Regions from separate parts of the Homo sapiens genome. Here regions 1 and 3 are each linked to region 2. The links come from fine-mapping of genetic effects on gene expression. A gene starts in region 2. Each other region holds a variant in brackets. All regions are shown on one strand. Distances are from middle to middle.

Evidence for each region. PIP is the estimated chance that this variant, and not a neighbour inherited with it, causes the effect.
Region 1: its variant is the best candidate, but not a certain one, in a credible set for the expression of DEPTOR in whole blood (INTERVAL, PIP 0.78).
Region 3: its variant is the best candidate, but not a certain one, in a credible set for the expression of DEPTOR in whole blood (TOPMed, PIP 0.87).

Annotation. Positions count from the first base shown.
Region 1 is chr8:120,045,646-120,052,974 of GRCh38, forward strand. DEPTOR (DEP domain containing MTOR interacting protein) reads left to right here. Exons shown (of 9, transcript NM_022783.4): 9 at 3,931-5,273. The coding sequence ends at 4,059. Among named protein-coding and RNA genes, the nearest start is that of COL14A1, 76 kb to the right of the region's middle. RefSeq lists enhancers at 1,961-2,820, 2,821-3,680. The variant G/A (reference allele first, on the strand shown) is at 3,995.
Region 2 is chr8:119,871,155-119,878,483 of GRCh38, forward strand. It overlaps DEPTOR (DEP domain containing MTOR interacting protein), which reads left to right and starts at 2,568. Exons shown (of 9, transcript NM_022783.4): 1 at 2,568-2,814. The coding sequence starts at 2,693. RefSeq lists enhancers at 2,395-2,689, 2,430-2,930, 2,606-2,865, 2,931-3,431, 3,066-3,165 and 1 more and a silencer at 2,414-2,586.
Region 3 is chr8:119,953,138-119,960,466 of GRCh38, forward strand. The region is part of intron 3 of DEPTOR (DEP domain containing MTOR interacting protein); the gene reads left to right. Among named protein-coding and RNA genes, the nearest start is that of DEPTOR, 83 kb to the left of the region's middle. The variant C/G (reference allele first, on the strand shown) is at 4,308.

The sequences.
Region 1 (7,329 bases), 170 kb after region 2:
ATTGCAGACGTGAGCCACTGCACGTGCCCGGCCTGTTTTTCTAAAATTAAATTCAGTTGAAGTGACCATCACCAAGGTTGATGACAAGTTCAATGTCAGATCATTTTGGTGTCCCTTGCCTATGTCCTTCCCGTTTGAGATCATGTGCACCATAACCCACCACAGCCCCCATCCCAGGGCTTTTAGGCAGTCCAGTAAAATGAACCCTGACCAGTATTAGTGACTGGTGCCACTGGCCCTTGGCCAGACAGCCCTGCTGACTGCCCTTTTCCTACCCCTGAACACCTGGGTAAAGGTCCTGTGCAGAGTTCACCAGGTGCTCATCCTCCCACACATACAGCCTTGACCATCCTAGCTTCTGAGGCCTCCAAGAGCTCTGCAATCAAGAGGTGCACAGGACCCCATCTTGAACCAAACCAGCCTCTCCCTTCTAGACAGAAGGGAGATCCTTGTAGACCAAGAATCTACCCACTGTTAGCATCAGGGCCCTCTTCCCTTCAATGTTTATTGTTTTGTTTTGTTTCATTACTTAACTAAGAGCTTTATGGAGATATAGTTCACATACCATGCAATTTATCCATGTAAACTGTAGAATTCAGTAGTTTTTAATATATTCACAGATTTATGTCACTATTACAACAATTTTAGAGCATTTTTATCACCCCTAAAAGAAACCCCGTACCCATTACCAACCACTTCCATGCCCCACCCCACCACCCCTGCTCCCAACCCTAAGTAATCAATAATCTACTTGCTGTCTCTGTGGATTTGCCTACTCTGGACATTTCATATAAATGGGCTCTTACACTCTATGGTCTATTCTGACTGGCATCTTTTACTTAGCATAATGTTTTCAGGGCTCACCCATGTTGTAGCATGTTGTATGTTCCATTTTATGGCCGAATAATATTCCACTGTATGGATATACTGAATTATATTTCTCCTTTCATCTGTCTTTTTAAATTTTTTAAATATATAGATATATATATTTTGTAGAGACGGAGTCTCACTATGTTGTCCAGGCTGGCTCAAGCAATCCTTCTGCCTCAGCCTCCCAAAGTGTTAGGATTACAGGCATGTGCCACCACGCCCAACCTCCTTTCATCTGTTGACAAACATTGGGGTCCTTCAGTTCTTGAAGCTTCAAGCCACCCTGTCTTCAACGCTTTTCCCTCTGGTGGCCATAGATCAGGGACCACAAACTCACATGCCTGTCAGCCAGGTGTTAGGAAGATAGGAAGCCGTAAGGACTGTGGCAAATGAGTGTCCATGCCATGTGTAGAACAGGCAGGCTCTACTCAGCCATGGCCACATGGCCATCTACACCTGGTATGATCACAGCTTCTGATTGTCCCAGAGAAGCCAGAGTCTGGGTTTTTATTTATTTATTTATTTTGAGACAGAGTCTTGCTTTGTTGCCCAGGCTAGAGTGCAGTGGCAGAATCTCGGCCCACTGCAACCTCTGCCTCCCAGGTTCAAGCAATTCTCCTGCCCCAGGCTCCTGAGTAGCTGGGATTACAGGTGTGCCACTACACCTGGCTAATTTTTGTATTTTTAGTAGAGATGGGGTTTCACCATGTTGGCCAGGCTGGTCTTGAACTTCTGGCCTCAGGTGATCTGCCCGCTTCGGCCTCCCAAAGTGCTGGGATTACAGATGTGAGCCACTGCACCCAGCCCAGAGTCTGGATTTTTATGCAAAGATTTTCCAAATTTTATTTTATTTTTTACTTTTATTTTTTGAAATGGAGTTTCACTGTTGTTGCCCAGGCTGGAGTGCAATGGTGTGATCTCGGCTCACTACAACCTCCACCTCCCGGGTTCAAGTGATTCTTCTGCCTCAGCTTTCCAAGTAGCTGGGATTACAGGCATCCGCCACCACGCCCAGCTAATTTTTTTGTATTTTTAGTAGAGACGGGGTTTCACCATGTTGACCAGGCTGATCCACCCGCCAGGCTGATCCACCTCAAGTGATCCACCTGCCTCGGCCTCCCAAAGTGCTGGGATTACAGGCATGAGCTACTGTGCCTGGCAGATTTTCTAAATTTTAAATGCTGGTCAATTAAAACAAACATGATGTGTGACAGAGGACACACAATTGTGGTTAAGACTAAATGCTGAGGCCAAGTGTGGTGGCTCACACCTATAATCCCAGCACTTTGGGAGGCCAAGGTGGGAGGATCACCGGAGGTCAAGAGTTCAAGACCAGACTGGCCAACATGGCGAACCCCCTCTCTACCAAAAATACAAAAAATTAGCTGGGCATGGTGGCACACACCTGTAATCCCAGCTACTCGGGAGGCTGAGGTGGGAGGATCGCTTGAGCCTGGGAGATGGAGGAGATCGTGCCACAGCACTCCAGCCTGGGCAACAGAGGGAGACTCCATGTCAAAAAAAAAAAAAAGTAAATGGTGAAATGTGATCCCTGAGCGATGCGGAGACATGGCTAATCTCAGGGAGCCTGCGAAGGGTCAGCTGGAGAGGGCACTCACCTGGCAACTCCTGCCCTCTTATTTGGCAGTGCAAAAAGGCTATTCATCTTTTTGGAAAAAGAAACCCCTGTATCTGTGGAAAAGACAAGGGATTTGAAATTTCCAAGTCTAGGGTCTAAAGCTCTGGGTTGGGAAGGAGGTGAAATTCTTCTCATTCTTTGGCTCATGAGTCTGCTGCAGCAGAAAAAAACAAAGCCCAGGCTGATGCCTGCTAAATTGCAAATTACTGCTAAATTGTCTTGCAAATTACTGTGGCCTAGTTCAGGATAGATTGTGACCTGTTTGTGTGACCTTGATTATGACTGTGACCTCCACCATGGTTGAAAACTGCTGATTTTGTATAAGATGTACCCTGAATCCATGAAGACAAATTTGTGGAACCAAGAAAAGAGAAACAGTAATAGTGTGATCTTATGTGGAGAAAACACCCTAGTAGGTTGGGGAGTGCAAAGTATCAAGGTTTATGACAACAGCGAGTGTTTATTGAGTAAATAAGCAGTCTGTGTACTACTGCCCGCTTTCCATTTTGTTTTGCCTGTGACCGTGAAAGAAGTGGGTATTTTTTGAAAGGAAAGAGATTAATAGTACTCAGCATCGGTGTAGTGCTTGGTGTTTGCAAAGAGGTTTCAAATGCACTATCTAGTGTGAGCCTGTGAGAATAGGCGTTTTTACCTGTTGTACAAGTGAGGCATTTATATCGTTGAAACATAGAAGAGGAGAAATTACTTGATTAATGTATTCCACCAAAGGGACCTATAACTTAAATCTGTATCTTTGATTCTAAGTCCCCTCATCTTTTCCACAGTGACAGAGCTTTCCAATACTCTTCCCAGTACTCTCCAATTTTGTTGTATCTAAGTAATAAGTATAGATATTTTTGGACTTAATATCATGTTTAAGTTTACATCGATATTACCCACACAGAAAACAATAAAAGGAAATGATGGTTCCCAAGGTGTTTTGGTATTTTTTACATTCTTTGGTTGAGTCCTCAACACTAATAATTAATAATTGGGAGCAAGCATGCCTGTGAATTACTGCAAGTAGAAACTATATATGTCATTAATTCTTACAACAGTCTTATAAGGTAGGTATTACTCTTATTATTATTATTAATTCTTATTTTAGGGTTGAGGGAAATAAAGCTCAGAAATTTAAATACCTAGCTAGTATTTAAATACTAGCTAAAGCTAGTATGTCTCTGAGTTAGGATTTAAGCCAAATTTTGTAAAACACTAAAACGATTTTTTTTTTTTTAAATTATACTGCCTTCCAGAAAATGTGTAGCTCCTTGGAAATTATTGAATTGGAGTCGTCAGCTGGATACATTTGGATATTTTAAGAATGAAGTTACCTGTTAGGGCTACACACTGTCTTTATTAAAGCTTTGTGCAAAACCAGGCGCTATAATAGATGCTCTTTCTTTGCATCTTTCCTTTAGGTCTGTCAGTTTGTCGTCTCTGTCAACGGGCTCAATGTCCTGCATGTAGACTACCGGACCGTGA[G/A]CAATCTGATTCTGACGGGCCCACGGACGATTGTCATGGAAGTCATGGAGGAGTTAGAGTGCTGAGCTCCTGGGCCTCCCAGCCCTCCAGTGGCCTGTGGGTGAGGGAAGCCAGAATGACACAAAGCAATGCAAAGACAAGATTGCCATGCAAATGGATGGTTTTGGACATACGAGTCTTCTCCGCACATACATGTCTAAAGTTGAGTTTTATACACTGAATGTGGAAGAACCGGGTATCATATCTTTTTTAAAAAATGTCAGTGTAGAAAACATTTGGGAAACCATTTTCCTACATGATAGAACTGCCTTACTAGATTTCTATTTGTAGCTCTCATTCATTGTTTTTTATCTTAGTTTGCAGAAAGGTGTTGAAATGCTTCTCTAGCCCAAACAGCGACATGCTAAAGTCCCCTTCTTCAGAGTCAATAGAGTAGTTGTTAAAGGTTTTAAATTGTACTTTCTCCAAAATTAGCATGCAGCTATTTAATAGGGAATCTAGATTTCACCAAGATTCAAATCAAAGCAACATTTAAAGGAATAAGACCTGTTCACTAGCATTTTCAAGGGGGTTCTAAAGCATTCAAGTGCTTAAAAGCCATAAAAAATGACTTCTTAATTCCTGCCTTTAGTGTCAACTTTTAAGTTAATACAGGTTTCAATTGTGGCATTAGGAAAAAAAAAAACCTTGTGATGCTATGGTTGGGGGTAGTTAGGGAGAGACTACATGAAATTGTGTGCCCCTATTTTCTTTCTGATCCTAAATCATTTTGTTTTATAAATCAGCTATAGCATCTTTCTAGAATTAATCCTGAATATGTTGAATGTTAAAATAGAGAAGTTTGTATATACACATAATTAAAAATCAACCCTTCTGGCAAGATTTCACTTTGAAGGTGTCTGTTTTTAAGGGAAGGCTAAAACTTTGCTGATATGTGATAAAACTTGAACTCTAAATTGCCTCCTTAGCCTGAATTTTTACTAGCTTTCTAGTGTAACATATTCTAAGGACATGACATGCTGCTTATTTGGGGGGATTATTTTTCACCAAAATGATCATCTTGTGTTGTAACTTTTCAGCTCACTTGTATATACGCACGTTTTCATTTTTGGTCTAGAAAATAGTGCATTTTGGGGCTCAGCGTGCAGAGGAAATTCCTCAAAGTGCCAAATTAGGCAGTCAGGAAATACTAAATTCTTCATTCCAAATAATGGATCTGAATGATGACGTTAATTTTTTATCATGCATTAACAAAATAAAATATGAGAATTGTACCACAGCCATTTCTTTTCATTAGGTTATCGTAATGTATAGGTACTGGTGGAATGGACCTACCGTGCTAAATATGTTATAGACATATATATATATATATATATATATATATATATTTCTGGTAATCCAACTTTTCTGATTTGTAGCTTTAGTCAGAGAATAGGATTTTGGAGTGACAGAGAATGTCTAACAGTAATACTGTTGATATACATTTGAGAAATACTATCACCTCTGTGTGGGTGTGCATTTGTACTGTATGGCAGGCTCTGTGCATTTAATATATATGATATCCTTTAACCCTCAATGCAACCTTGCAAGGTAGATATTAACGTCCACATTTTTCAGATGTGGAAACTAAGCCTGAGCAAGTTTTAAAATGGTCTCTAAATTCACACGGCTGCAGGAACTACTAGGTGAAATAGGCTGAATGTAAACACAGGTTTAACGCTAAATCCCATGTTACTCCCCTCAACTTTTCCCCATTTAAGGACCTTATATTGAGGGTTTATTCTGAGCCAGGCTGTATGCTAAGACTTTACGCCATTTGTCCTTATTTACCTGTGAAGTCAATACGGTCATTATCTCCATTTTACAAATGAGGAAACTGACTTGTAAAGTGGTTAGTCATATGCCCAAGGCCACAAAACTAATAAAGTGGGAAACCTTACCACTGGCTTAAAAAAATTTTTTATAGCATCTTTAAAAGATGAGTCTTAAATGCTTTCTGTGCTCAGGTATTCATTAAGTGACAAAAGAAGAAGGAATACCTTTCGAGAAATGGTATCTCCTTTTGAGAAATGGTATCTTCTTCTTGCCTGCTTTACCCATTATCTTGGACCCTGGCATAATAGAACTTCCCTTCAGCCAACCTAAGCACCAGAGAAGCATTTCTCTGTATCTATTGCACACGATCTCCTCTTGGCTGTGAGGAAGGAAGGAAAGAAGGGAGAGAGGATTTCCTTCTTTGGTTCCCATCACCCTAAGTTCAAAAGCCAAAGGCCATGAGAGCTTTCCCTTAGCTACTCCTCCAGCCCACCCCTGACATCTTTACACAGCAATTAAAAAGACTACCCCTACCTTCCTGGGGACCCTATCTCACTCCCTCCAGCCCTTGCACATGTACTTTCTTCTTCGTGGAAAGAAGAATGTTCTGTCTTACTGTTGCCTGGAAAATTCTTTCTTCATGTAAACTCCCTTTAGAAATTATCTCCTCTGAGAAGCCTTCACCAGCTCCCCAGTTCTAGGATTGATGCCTCTTCTCTAAATTTACATGGATCCTTAAGTCCTCCCTATGCCCCGTTAGAGCACTGATGACATTTACTTTGAAATTCCCCTGTTACATGTCTGTTTGCCTAAGTAGACTCTAAGCATCTGCAGAACAGGGGCTATGTCTTAGTATCCAGGGTATTTTCTTCACCTGGCACAATTCCTGCCACAGAGTAGTGTGTCAGCTCTCTATTGTTGTCTAAAAACCCACCTCAAGGGTGGGGTGCAGTGGCTCATGCCTGTAATCCCAGCACTTTGGGAGGCTGAGGCAGGCGGATCACTTGAGTCCAGGAGGTCAAGACCAGCCTGGTCAACATGGTGAAACCATGTCTCTATTAAAAAATAGAAAAATTAGCTGGATGTGGTGGCAAGCACCTGTAATCCCAGCTACTTGGGAGGCTGAGGTGGGAGAATCGCTTGAACTTACAAGGTGGAGGCTGCAGTGAGCCAAGATAGTGCCATTGCACTCCAGCCTGGGCAACAGAGCGAGACTCCAACTCAAAAAAATAAATAAGTAAATAAAAAATAAAAACCTGGCCAGGCACAGTGGCTCACGCCTATAATCCCAGCACTTTGGGAAGCCGAAGCGGGTGGATCACTTGAGGTCAGGAATTTGAGACCAGCCTGGCCAACAGGGTGAAACCCCGTCTCTACTAAAAACACAAAAAATTAGCTGGGCGTGGTGGTGCACGCCCGTAATTCCAGCTACTTGGGAGGCTGAGGTGGGAGAATTGCTTGAACCCAGGAGGCAGAGGCTGCAGTGAGCCGAGATTGTGCCACTTCACTCCAGCCTGGGC
Region 2 (7,329 bases):
TTGCTCCTGGGCTCACAGTCATGGACATGTCCTCAGGATGTGGCTCACCAATTTTTCCCTAAGTTAGGAAAAAGGATCTGTCTTCTTACCCAGTGGAGCATGGTGTGTGTCATATGTCAAAAGGTTAAAACAATAACAGCAAACCAGTTCCCATTTCCTGTTCAAATATACCTACCTATACACACACCGCCCCCTACACACACCTCTTATCAGGCAAGAAAAATAAATCATGCTCTCTCACTGTCACTGGAACAATAGCATCAGGTATTTTCCTAACTCGAATTTTCTTTTCTTTTCTTTATGTTAAGGTGCTTTTTTATCTTAAAGTTACAAATTTGTGTTACTGACATGGATCTTGGAAACTTTACATAATAGAAATTTTAATGTTATTTATTTTTTCTTTTTTTTAAGTGTCAGGGTCTTGCTCTGATACACACACTGGAGTGCGGTGGTGCAATCATAGCTCACTGTAACCTTGAATTCCTGGGCTCAAGTGATCCTTCCACCTCAGCCTCTCAAGTAGCTGAGACTACAGGTATGCACAACCATACCTGGGTAATTAATTTTGTTTTTTTTTTGTAGAGACAGGGTCTTGCTATGTTGCCCAGGCTGGCATTGAACTCTTGGCCTCAAGCAGTCCTCCCACCCTAACTTCCCAAAGAACTGGGATTACATTATTTCATTTAAGCCACGCAACATCCCTATGAAGTAGAAATTATTATTCCTGTTTTATCGATAGGAAAGGGAGGCCAAGAGAAATAACTAGCATAAGGTTGCAAAATTAGCAAACGACAGAATTGAGATAGAAATTGCATGTTTGACTGAGAAGCCCGTGCAAACTCTTGATATTCTATTTAGTAGTTATAAGATTAAAACATGAGCAACAGACACCTTTTAATCTCATTAACTCTGGGACTTCTGTTGAATGATTTATGTATTTTATGCAGAATAAGGCTCTTAGAATCACAGTCACCTAGAACTATGTCTGCCTTGGTCTACATGTCTATTGTGGCCTATTTAAAAAATTAAGAAACTTAAATAATTTCTTTTGGCAAAAGAGTCACCTAACATCTGTCTCATGCAGATTCAGAGCTGGTCTGCTCCCGGATGTTCAAGGGAGTTGGGCAACTATTCTCTTTCTGGAGTGGGGCTGAGTATGGCCAGGGTTTAAGGGCTACCTAACTTTCTAGGCAGATTACTTCATCTTTCTATACTTAAGCTTTCTCATTTGTAAGTTGAAAATAATACCAAACTCCAGGGTTTTGTGAGGATAAAGTGTTTGGCACAATGTAAAGCACAGAATAAATGCTCAACACACATGAATACTGCCATAAACATTACTTCGCCTTCCTGCAGACCAACTCCGACTCTGCATGAAACAGAAAATCAGAACATTTATTTGGTACTAATCAAATTTCTTTTCATAATCTTTTACGGATAGACAATACCATTGTATCCCCATTTTAAGAGGCAGTCTTTCAGTCTTTTCAAAGCATAACTTTGAAGCCAGAATTGCCTCGGTTAGATTTCTTCTTATTATTATTATGATGATTTGAGACGGAGTCTCGCTCTTGTTGCCCAGGCTGGAATGCAATGGCACTAACTCCGCTCACCCGAACTCGGCTTACAGCAACCTCCGCCTCCCGGGTTCGAGCGATTCTCCTGCCTCAGCCTCCGAAGTAGCTAGGATTACAGGCATGCACCACCACGCCCGGCTAATTTTGTATTTTTAGTAGAGACGGGGTTTCTTCATGTTGGTCAGGCTGGTCTGGAACTCCTGACCTCAGGTGATCTGCCCGCCTCGGCCTCCCAAAGTGCTGGGATTACAGGCATGAGCCACGGTGCCCGGCTCTTCTTATACTTATTATTTGCTTGCCTTAGACAAGTAACTTCACCTCTCCAAGCCTGCATTCTAATGCAAAACGAACACCAATACCTATTTTATGAATTATTGTAATAATTAAACGAGGTAATACCATACCTGAAGTATCTTTAATGCAGCAGATGTCAAAAGTGGTAGCCGCAATTATTTTTATTTTGTAAGGGAGGATTAAACACATTTAAATAGGACATCACAGGAGCGGAGCTGGATCCCAGGTCAGCCTGATTCCTAGGCCGGCGTTCCTTATTGATTACAACATAAGGCAAACAAGTCGTCTTTGGAGAGAGAGGTTGGGGAGAGAAGAATGTTTAATTTCTCCATGCCCTTCAATGACATGTATAACCTTCACTGTTGACCATTTGGCCAGATTGTTGAATTATGTTTTGCTCTCTGGCAACTTGGGGTGTGGAACGTACAATAAAAACGCCTTCACACTAATAACCTCCAGGCCTGTCCCCAGGATTCTACAGCATGAGCTTTGTGGGTAAAGAGAGCTCACCAAATTCAGCCTCCAGCAGCACACACAGCTCAGTAGCAGCGCCCCGCCCAGATGTTTATATTTTCCTCCATCGGCCCCGCCCCCCGACCATGAGGGGCTCTAGCCACGCCCCCAAGCTCAAGTTTCTGGGGCCGGACTAGCCCAGCGCGTCTGCCTACCCATAGGGATTCCCTCTCCAGCCAATCCAGTCAGAGCAGCGGAGCTGCCCCGAACAAAGATGGCGCGGGAAGCGTCTGTGAGGGCAGACTGATCCGAGCACCCAAACCCTCGGCGGACAGCGGAGCCAGTGGTAGCCGCACGGCCCTAAAACCATGGAGGAGGGCGGCAGCACTGGCAGTGCTGGCAGTGACAGCAGCACCAGCGGGAGTGGCGGGGCGCAGCAAAGGGAGCTGGAGCGCATGGCTGAGGTCTTGGTCACCGGGGAACAGCTACGGTAAGGCAAGAGACACAGCGGGTGAGCTCACGATGGCACTGCCAACGCGTGCCCGCTGCAGTCCTGCGCGCACGCGCTCCCTGGCTCGTGGCTTGCGACTCGCGTGGGGCGCCGGAACGGCTGCGGGCGCGTGGATGGTCCTCGGTGCGCCCGCGCTTAGCTGCTGCAGCCTCGGTCCCTGAGGACTCGCTCGCCAAGCGGGGCTGCCTGGCAGAAGCCGACGAGCGGGTGGTGCGCGCTGCGCCCTAGCCTGGCTGCTGCAGTCCTGTGCCGGGCAAAGTCCCTGCCACCCACCGCGCTGTCCGTCTTCCCGTGTACCTGGACGCCGCCAGGCCTCCCGGCTGACAGCCTGCGCCTCATCCGCGAAGAGAGCAAGAGGGGTCGCTGTGGGGTCCCGAGGCGACCCCAGCCCCTCTACTCCTTGATAAAAGGAGCAAGACCAACGATAGTCTTCACTAGGTTTTCCTTTTTGCTGACAAGTCTTCCTTCACTCCCCTGAGCCTCGGTGTTTTACATCTGTAAAACAGGGCTGATTCAAGGGCTTTTTGTGAGGTTAAACTGAGAGAGCATTTCTGAAACCCTGCACCTATCAGTTAATTGGCACATCGTCCTCAATCATTTGGGTCCGCAAGGGGGCGTGGAGGCACCTTGTCGGGCTGCCTTGAGGCTGTGCCAACTCCCCGGGCTCGCACGTTTTGGGCAGCAGGATCCATGGGGACCCTGGCTCCTGCAAGAATTAAGACTTGCGGCGTCTCACGGAACTTGGGAACAAGGACGACCCCCAGAATCCCCCTTGCCATTCCCATCCCTGTATGGTCCTTCCTCTAGGGCTGTTTGGGAATAGTACTTATGGTCTAACTGGTTCTGCAGCTGCCCTTCGTGTGGTTATAAATCAGTTTGCCAGGAAAAAGAAAACCCAGCTCTGCAGCGTTTGAGCCACAACTTGTACGCGGGCCCCTGTTACTTCTAGTTCTTAGCCTGAATTCCCCAGCTTGTTTTGGTTTCTAAATGTCTGTGTTTCAGGACCTGAAAGAGTGTCTTGCAAAGGTCTCTGAAGGAGACCAATATTGGAAGTCAGAATTAACTGATTTTTAATGTTACAAAAGGCAAATTGCACCTATCGATTCTTTGTTGATTTTTAAAAATACGTGGTCAGAATTAAAGGGAATAAAAACTTTTTTTCCTTCATCAAAAGTACTTTCTAATGAAACCTGTCACGCGGTGCCCGTGTGAAGAGACCACCGAACAAGTTTTGTGTGAGCAATAAAGCTTTTTAATCACCTGGGTGCAGGTGGACTGAGTCTAAAAACGGAGTCAGCAAAGGGAGATGGGGAAGGGGTTGTTTTATAGGAGTTGGGTAGATGATGGATAGTGGTGTAAGTTTGTGAGGTGCAGTCCAAGAAGGCGGGGGTGACTTCATAAAGCCCTGTTGTAAAGAGTAGAGTAAGGAAGAAGAGACCTGATATCCCTTGGAGAATAAATGTTGAAGGAGCAGGAGGGTGTCTTGCTGAGAAGATTCAAAGGAGAGGCTACAAAGTAGAAGGTCATCAATATATTGAATAAGGTGAGAAGCAGAGGGGTAGAAAGAAAGTAAATCATGAGAAAGGGCTTGGCTGAAGTAATGAGGGCTGTTCCTGAAGACTTGCGGCAGTACAGCCCAGGTAAGCTGCTGGGACTGATGGGTGTCAGGGTCAGTCCAGGTAAAAGCAAAGAGAGGCTGGGACGAGGGGTGCAGGGGAATAGTGAAAAAGGCATCTTTAAGATCAAGAATGGAATAGTGAGTTGTGGAGGAAGGTATTGAGGACAAAAGAGTGTACAGGTTTGGCACCACAGGGTGGATAGGCAAAACAATTTGGTTGATAAGGTGCAGAACCTGAACTAACCTGTAAGACTTGTCCAGTTTTGGGACAGGTAAAATGGGGGAATTGTAAGGAGAGTTTGTAGGCTTTAGAAGCCCAAGCTGTAGCAGGCGAGTGATAACAGGCTTCAGTCCCTTTAAAGCCTACTGTGGGAAAGAAAGTTTAATTTCTCTGCTCTTCATTACTGGGCCATCTTTTTAAAAGTCTTCTGTTGGATAGGGTTACTTATTTTTCATTTATTTTACAAATATTAAATTGCATGATGGCTCTTTTTGTCCAGCAAGTACTTTTTCCTTCAAGATGCAGTTTAAATGCCTCTTCCTTGCAGTCCCCAGAGCACTTGTTATTCCCCACTTTTCTAGCGCCTCTCTGCACTGCAGCAGTTTTGAGAGCCATCCTTGTCATGCAGGAATTAGACCTGGGTTTGAATGACTGCTCCACCATTATGTAGGCAAGTGTCAGCATTAAGTTGTTTCAAGGAAGACTTTAAGCTAGACTGAATCTTGGCTTTGCTACTTACTAGTGTGGGACCTTGGACAAGTGATTATGCCCGTAATCCTGGCCCTTTGGGAGACCAAGGCAGGCGGATCCCTTGAGGTCTGGAGTTCAAGACCAGCCTGACCAACATGGTGAAACCTCATCTCTACTAAAAATACAAGAATTAGCCGGGTGTGGTGGTGCATGCTTGTAATCCTAGCTACTTGGGAGGCTGAGGTGAGAGGATTGCTTGAACCTGGGAGGCAGAGGTTGCAGTGAGCCAAGACAGTGCCACTGCACTCCAGCCTGGGCAACAGAGTGAGCCTCCATCTCAAAAAAAAAAAAAGAAGAAGAAGGATGGGTAATAATGGAATTTACCTCATAGTGTTACTATGAGGATTAGATGAGTTGCGCTTAGGGTAGTTTCTGATAGATATGTAGTAAGCACCAGGTCAACATTAGCTAAGGTAGAGTTCTGTGACCTTGGACAAGTAAATTCACTTCTCTGAGTCTCTGTTTCCACATTTGAAAAAGACAATGAAGATGAATGTATTTCATGGAGTTGCGAGAATTTGCCCCTGGGCTTCATGTATTAATGAGCATTCAACAAATAGTTCCTGGAATTAATTAGTATTATTGGTCTCTCTGCATCACTGCATGTGACTTCCAGCCAAGCAAGATTGGGCAGGAAGGATTGGGTGGTGGTGAAGAGCGCAGGATATAGAACTAGGCTGCCTGGGTTCTTATTCTGCCTCCACCATTTATTCTGTAACTTTAGGACAATATGTTTAGCCTCTCTGTGTCTCAGTTTCCTCTTCTACGAAATGTTATTCTGATGACACTTCTTCAGGAGCTCTGTGAGGATTAAATGAGATGCTACATGTAAAAGGCTTAGGAAATGTTAGCCACTTAATTCTACTTTGGAAAATTTTAATCATTGCTGTTTTTTATCTCAACTGTTTTGGCACTGTAACTAGCACATAGTAACTACTCAGTAAGTAGTTAAATGAATATCGTAAGTATTCAATATACTTCTGTTAGTACAGAGCAGTATAATAGTCAGAATTTAGGAATTAAAGCGGTCGTATGCCTGGTTTCCTAGTTATTGGAGGGTTGGAAGTTCAGTCATTCTTGTCACTTTCACAAAGAGTTCTTCTGTCTGTAGCTCCCCTCTCACTGCAGGATTGTAAGTGCTTTGCAATGTCCAGGCCTCCTGCCTCTAAGTGCTTCACACACTCTCAGTTCCCCTCTGCTTTCTCTCACTTTGCATTACTTTCTGGGTCATCAGAGATGAGGTAGAGGTGATAAGAGGAAACCAAGGACTGGGATTTGAAATAAAAAATTTAGCCTCTAGGCCCAGTTCTATCAATTTCTTTTTCTTTCTTTAATTGTAGCTATGCCCTCTTGAGCAAGTCACTTAACCTCTCTAGTCCTAAGCATCCTTCCCTACAGAATGGGAATAATATCTTCCCACATAAGATTTGTGGTAGTGGATCAAATAGGGTACAGCATGGGAAGAAACTTTGTAAAATAAATCGATAAAGCAAGAAGAGTGTTGTTATGACTATTGTAACCTCCAGATGTGAAATTGGGGGCTGGCTCCACAATCCTGACGCTTCTTTTTTTGTTTGTGTTTTGTTTTTTGAGATGGAGTTTCACTCTTGTTGCCCAGGCTGGAGTGCAATGGCGCGATCTCGGCTCACCGCAACCTCTGCCTCCGGGTTCAAGAGATTCTCCTGCCTCAACGTCCCAAGTAGCTGGGATTACAGGCACGCCCTATTTTCTATTTTTTAAATTTATTTTTCTTGAAGCACAAGAATCACTTCAACCCAGGAGGCGGAGATTGTGGCTAATTTTGTATTTTATTTATTCATTTAGTTATTTATTTTTAGAAGAGACGAGGTTTCTCCATGTTGGTCAGGCTGGTCTCCAACTCCCGACCTCAGGTGATCCGCTCACCTCAGCCTCCCAAAGTGCTGAGATTACAGGCATGAGCTGCACCTGGCCAATCCTGACACTTTTTTTTTTTTTTTAAGACAGCATCTTCACTTTGTCATCAGGCTGGAGTGCGGTGGCACTATCTCGGCTTACTGCAACCTTCGCCTCCCAGGTTCAAGCGATTCTCCTGCCTCAGCCTCCCGAGTAGGTGGGATTACAGGTGCGTGCCACCACACCCAGT
Region 3 (7,329 bases), 82 kb after region 2:
TTTCTTGCTGTTGGGGCCAAGGGAGAAAAGGCATATATATTTATGGATAGTTTTATGTGACATAGGAACCTTTAAAATGAAGACCCAAAGATACAGGGGAAATTGTCCATTTTTATGCTAGGGTTCAAGAAATTATGAACAGTTGTGTAGAAATATGACTGGAGGCTGGGCGTGGTGGCTCACGCCTGTAATCCCAGTACTTTGGGAGGCCAAGGCAGGCAGATCACTTGAGGTCAGGAGTTTGAGAACAGCCTGGCCAACATGGTGAAACCCCGTCTCTACTGAAAATACAAAAATTAGCTGGGCATGGTGGCACACGCCTATAATCCTAGCTACTTGGGAGGCTGAGGCATGAGAATCACTTAATCACTTGAATCCAGGAGGTGGAGGTTGCAGTAAGCCAAGATTGTGCCACTGCACTCCAGCCTGGGTGACAGAGCAAGACTCTGTCTCAAAAAAAAAAAAAAAGAAAGAAAGAAATATGATTGGACAAAAAGGGTATGATCTACGGTTAATAGACTCAGTGGGGAAACCCAGTAAAGCCCGTCTATCTAGATTCTTCTTGGCCTTTCTGAGCATGCATTCCTTCTGAGTGTGGGGTAAGACCCTCTCTGGAATGGGGGTCTTATGACCTACAGTCAAACAAGATAGGTCAGATAGCTTCTTTTTTTTTTTTTTTTTTCTTAAGACAGATTCTCACTCTGTCACCCAGGCTGGAGTTCAGTGGCACGATCTTGGCTCACTGCAACCTCCACCTCCCCAGTTCAAGCAATTCTCCTGCCTCAACCTCCCGAGTATCTGAGATTACAGGTGCCCACCACCACGCCCGGCTAATTTTTTGTATTTTTAGTAGAGATGGGGTTTCAACATGTTGGCCAGGCTGGTCTCAAGATCCTGACCTCAGGTGATCCACCCGCCTTGGCCTCCCAAAGTGCTGTGATTACAGGCGTGAGCCACCATGCCTGGCCAAGGTAATGGTTTTAATATTTGGGTGAATGAATAATTAACTTTTTTTTTTTTTTTGGAGACAGGGTCTCACTCTGTCATCCAGACTGGAGCACAGTGGTGCAATCACAGCTCACTGCAGCCTCAAACTCCTGGGCTCAAGTGATCCTCCCACCTCAGCCTCCTGAGCAGCTAAGACTACAGGCATGTGCCACTACACCCAACTAATCTTTTGGTATTTTTTGTTGAGATGGGGTTTTGCCATATTGCCCAGGTTGGTCTTGAATTCCTGGGCTCAAGTAATCCTCCCACCTTGGCCTCCCAAACTGCTGGGATTAAGGTGTGAGCCAGCATGCCCAGTCTGTTTTGCTTTTAAAAATAATTGATCATATTAACACATGACTTGTTTTTTAAAGCTCTCTTTCTAAATTCTGAAGCATCTTTTTGACCTAAGCCCCACAGGCCATTTTGTCTCCCTCCCTGGCTTTTGCTCCTGTACATCATTCACATCTATTCCCAGGTTACACAGGGCCTCCTCAGCTCTTTTGAATTTTTTTTCCCAGTGTACAAGGAGATCGCTATCAGCTTATTTCTATTCTTGTACTGGCCCCTAAATGTAGTAGTTCCTTCTATTGTAGTGCTGCCTTCCCTCTAGGTTAATACGGGTCTGGGAAATCTGAGTCAGATATAGATCCAGGAAAGGTGGAAATCAGCTCACATGCACAAGCAAAACCTGGTGAGTGCTTGCAGCAGGCAAATATTGGTGTGTGTGTGTGTGTGTGTGTGTGTGTGTTTTGAGACAGTCTTGCTCTGTTGCCCAGACTGGAGTGCAGTGGCACAATCTTGGCTCACTGGAACCTCCGTCTCCTGGGTTCAAGCGATTCTCCTGCCTCAGCCTCTTGAGTAGCTGGGATTACAGGTGCCCGCCACCACACTTGGCTAATTTTGTATTTTTAGTAGAGACAGGGATTTGCCATGTTGGCCAGGATGGTCTTGAACTTCCAACCTGAGGTGATCTAACCACCTCGGCCTCCCAAAGTGCTGGGATTACAGGCATGAGCCACTGCACCCGGCCTCTATGATTGAATTTTAAGAGTTATTATGTTCTGGATGCAAATCTGTTATTAGACATAGTCTTTGCAAATATTTTCTCCCATTCTGTTCTTGATGGTATTGTTTGTAGCACAAAAGTTTTTAATTTTGAAATAGTCCAATTTGTCTATTTCTCTGTTATGTTGCTTGTGCTTTTGGCCTCCTATCTAAGAAAACATGCCTAATCCAAGCCTATGGAAACTTGCTACTTACGTTTTCTTTCAAACATAGGAGTTTTATAATTTTAGCTCTTAATGTTTAGTTCCATAATCCATTTTGACATAATTTTTTTCCTTTCTTTTTTTTTTTGAGTCAAAGTTTCGCTGTTATTGCCCAGGCTGGAGTGCAATGGTGTGATCTTGGCTCACCGCAACCTCTCCCTCCTGAGTTCAAGCGATTCTCCTGCCTCAGCCTCCCAAGTAGCTGGGATTACAGGCATGTGCCACCACGCCCAGCTAATTTTGTATTTTGGGTAGAGACGGGGTTTCTCCATGTTGGTCAGGTTGGTCTCGAACTCTTGACCTCAGGTGATCCACCCACCTTGGCCTCCCAAAGTGCTGGGATTACAGGTGTGAGCCACTGCACCCTGCTGACATAATTTTTATATAAGGCATGAGGTATATATTAAAAACCACTGAATTGTACGTGTTAAATAGGTTAATTGTATGGTATGTGAATTATCTCTGAGTAAAGCTGGAAGAAGAAGGAAGGGGAGGGTGCGGGAGAAGAGAAGGAGAAGAACTCATCTTGGCAGCATCTGCTTCCTCTTTCTTGAGCCCCGCATCACCAGGTCCAGACTTCCTTACTGGAGAGAGGCTATTTTGAGGGGTACCGCAGAGCCAACGATCCACTTCTGGCCATCATCTGCATGTAATTGTGAGTGATCCCAAGCTAGAGTCATAGAGGAGCTGCCCAGGTGAACCCCAGACAATGCATACAATACTAACATATAATTAAATGATGGTTATTTTAAGCCACCAAGTTTGGGAGTAGCTTGTCATATGGCAAAAATAATTGCAACAAGTAGTAAGTCAAACTCTTGCTTTAACATTGCGACTACATATTAATCCTAAAATAAAATCCCACGAAAGGCGTGGTCTTCAAAATAAGAACCTGGATGGGGACATTAGTTGATTATAAGGGGAAGTGAAATAAGGAAGCGCTAAGGCTGGTGGAGCATGTTGTAAATGGCAAGTTGATCCAATCCAGGCAGGCATGCCAGCTGGCCTCAGTCCTAAAGCTCACACTGGCAGAAGCAGCTAACCAGTCACTTGTCCAGAGGCCACCAGATACTTAGTAGGAGCTCTAGAGGGCTGGCAGGTCATGTTTCTAGTTACAAGAAATGACACAAGTTAACCCCATCCACTGGCCCTCCCCATTCCCTGAAAGGAAATTCACTGAACTGGAAGGGACAGAGTGGTCAGAACCAGGGATAAAGGCCAGGAGTCTGTGTCTGTGTCTTAAATGGAGACTATCAATAGTGCCAAAGTCTCTTGATTATCTCCACACAGGTCTCCTTTTTTTTTTTTTTTTTTAAGAGACAGGGTTTTTTGTTTTTTTTTTTTGTTTTTTTTTTTTTAGATGAAGTCTCATTCTGTCACCCAGGCTGAAGTGCAATGTCACAATCTCAGCTCACTGTAACGTCTGCCTCCTGGGTTCAAGTGATTCTCCTGCCTCAGCCTCCCAAGCAGCTGGGATTATAGGCACCCACCACCACACCCAGCTAATTTTTTTGTGTTTTTAGTAGAGACGGGGTTTCACCCTGTTGGTCAGGCTGATCTTGAACTCCTGATCTCAGGTGATCTACCTGCCTTGGCCTCCCAAAGTGCTGGGATTACAGGCATGATTCACTGTCCCTGGCCAGAGACAGGGTCTTGCTGTGTCATCCAGGCTGGAGTGCAGTGGCACAATCATAGCTCACTGCAACTTTGAACTCCTGGGCTCAAGGGATCTTCCTGCCTTAGCCTCCCAAAGTGCTGGGATTGCAGGTGGGAGTGAGCAACTGCACCCAGCTTGGGGTTGTTTTTAGTATATACTTGGATAATGATGTATAGCAGGAGAATGCATATAATTAAATTTAATTTATTCACTTAGCTTTTTGAAAACCTACTGTGCTAGGAAAAAACTGTGAACCACATAGACAGGGACTCTGGTCTCAAAAAGCTTCTAATCAAGTGAGCAAGTAATTCCCCTAGGCTTCGAGAGGGACCTTAGAAATGGTACATGGTCCAGATTTGTAGGAATTGCAGATTTCTTAGAGAAAGTGATAT[C/G]TAAAACCAGAAAACTGAGGACGCTAGTTTTTCTTCCATTTTGTCCTCCAAGACAGCTTATTTGAGGGTCAAAAGAAATGAAGGAATGGTGGTATTTCTTGCCTGGGCATGCACATGGGTCCTTCTATTTTTTTTTTCTTTCTTTCTTTCTTTTTTTTTTTTCAGACAGAGTCTTGCTCTGTCGCCCAGGCTGGAGTGCAATGGTGCAATCTTGGCTCACTGCAACCTCCGCCTCCTGGGTTCAAGCGATGCTCCTGCCTCAGCCTCCCATGTAGCTGGAATTATAGGCACGCGCCACCATGCCCGGCTAATTTTTGTATTTTTAGTAAAGACAGGGTTTCACCATGTTGGCCAGGATGGTCTTGAACTCCTGACCTCAAGTGATTCGCCCACCTTGGCCTCCCAAAGTGCTGGGATTTTACAGGCGTGAGCCCCTGCTCCCGGCCTCTATTTTCTTTTCTAGATTCTTGTCATCATTCCATGTGGCTTTATTCTATTCAGTTTATTCCCTGGAACTTCAGTGTTCATCCATCATTCTGTTGTGACTTTCCGAGCTATGTAACATGCCTCAGTGTGTGTGGTTTCATGTATCTTTGCCACTGCTTATTCATACAAATGTGTTCCAGCTATCTATTCCTACAAAACAAGTCATACTAAGATTTAGCAGTCTAAAACAACAATGATGTGTTATTTCTTCTGATTACATGGTTTGCGTGGTGGTTACTCTATTGGTTTCATGTGGGCACATTCATCTGCTTGCTGAAGGGTCAGCTGGGCTGGAAGGTCCAGGATGCCCTCATTCACATGTCTGAGAGCTGGTGCTTGCTGTTGCTTGGACAACCTGGTCCTCCTCCTGTGGCCTCTTCCCCTCTAATAAGCTAGACCTGCCCCCTTTCATGGTGATTTCAGGAGGGCATTCCAAGGGGCAAAGGTGGAAGTTGTAAGGCCTCTTAAAGCCTCACCTTAGAAGTTGCATAATGTCACTTTCATTGCATCCTGTTGGTCAAAGCCAGTCACAAAGCTAGGCCAAGTTTATCACCTTAGAAGTTGCATAACGTGGCCGGGCATGGTGGCTCACACCTGTAATCCCAGCACTTTGGGAGGCCGAGGGTGAATCACTTGAGGTCAGGAGTTTGAGACCAGCCTGAACAACACGGTAAAATCCCATCTCTACTAAAAATACAAAAATTAGCCAGGTGTGGTGGCATGCACCTGTAATCCCAGCTGCTCAGGAGGCTGAGGCAGGGGAATAGCATGAACCCGGGAGGCAGAGGTTGCAGTGAGCCGAGATCACGTCACCGTACTCCAGCCTGGGTGACAGATCGAGACTCTATCTCAAAGAAAAAAAGAAAAAGAAGAAGAATAACCTCACTTTCACTGCATCCCGTTGGTCAGAGCAAGTCACAAAGCTAGCCCAAGTTCAAGGGAAATAGAAATGGACTCAGCATCTGGATGGGAGAAGCAATGAAGTCACACTGGAAGACACATGAGGAACTACTGTGTCCATCTTTGCATACAGTTTCCTAGAGAGTGTTTTTATGTTTCTGTCACTTGTGTTGACATACGTGTGACAGTTGTCCTTACCACCTTCTAAGAAGGGGTTGTCCATTATTATATTAAATAAAATTCATATCGCTTATACCAACTCTGCTGTTACTAACTTTGGGAAAGAAGCCTGTTGCCTGTTGGCTATTTCTTTTTCTTTCTTTCTTTCTTTTTTTTTTTTTTTTTTTTTTGAGACAGAATCTCGCTCTGTCACCCAGGCTGGAGGGAAGTGGCGCCATCTCGGCTCACTGCAAGCTCCGCCTCCCGGGCTCACGCCATTCTCCTGCCTCAGCCTCCTCAGCAGATGGGACTACAGGCGCCCACCACCACGCCCAGCTAATTTTTGTAAATTTAGTAGAGACAGGGTTTCACCGTGTTAGCCAGGATGGTCTCGATTTCCTGACCTTGTGATCCACCTGCCTCGGCCTCCCAAAGTGCTGGGATTACAGGCATGAGCCACTGCGCCCGGCCACCTGTTGGCTATTTCTAAGCATGGATTAAAGTGCAGAAGAGGTTTGATTTGGGAAAATATCTAAATAATCTTTTTTTTTTTTTGAAACGGAGTCTTGCTCTGTCACCCAGGCTGGAGTACAGTGGTGCGATCTCGGTTCACTGCAACCTCTGCCTGCCAGGTTCAAGTGATTCTCCTGCCTCAGCCTCCCACCACAGTAGCTGGGATTACAGGCATGCACCACCACACCCAACCAATTTTTGTATTTTTAGTAGAGATGGGGTTTCACTGTGTTGGCCAGGCTGGTCTTAAACTCATGACCTCAAGTAATCCACCCTCCTTGGCCTCAAAATGCTGGGATTACAGGTGTGAGCCTCTGTGCTTGGCCTCTAAATAAGATTTTTAAATGACTTCTGTTACATGCTGAATGAGAAGGTCTTTAATGAGTTCTATTAGATGCTTATACCTTGTATACTCTTATACTCTTAATAAGGGTGTACATTCATGGGCCAGGCGCAGTGGCTCACACCCGTAATCCCAGCACTTTGGGAGGCTGAGGTGGGCAGATCACGAGGTCAGAAGTTCGAGACCAGCCTAGCCAACATGGTGAAACCTCATTTCTACTAAAGATACAAAAATTAGACATGGTGGCACACGCCTGTAATCCCAGCAACTCAGGAGGCTGAGGCAGGAGAATTGCTTGAAGCTGCAAGGCAGAGGTTGCAGAGAGCCAAGATCATGCCACTGCACTCCAGCCTGGGTAACAGGGCAAGACTCCCTCTCAAAAAAAAAAACAAAAAACAAAAAACAAAAAAACAGTATACATTCATATACTTAGAACTTCACTTGCCCCCAAGATTTTTGATGATAACAACAATTTAGTGAAGGAAGTGGAACAGGTATTATCTTCCTCATTTAATATGAGTTTGGGAGACAGTGAGAAGGTACATGACTAGTTTGTAGCAGAGCTGTGTTTGGGTCCCAGGCACCTAATTTCTAATCCTGAGTCCCTTCCATGGATTTCAA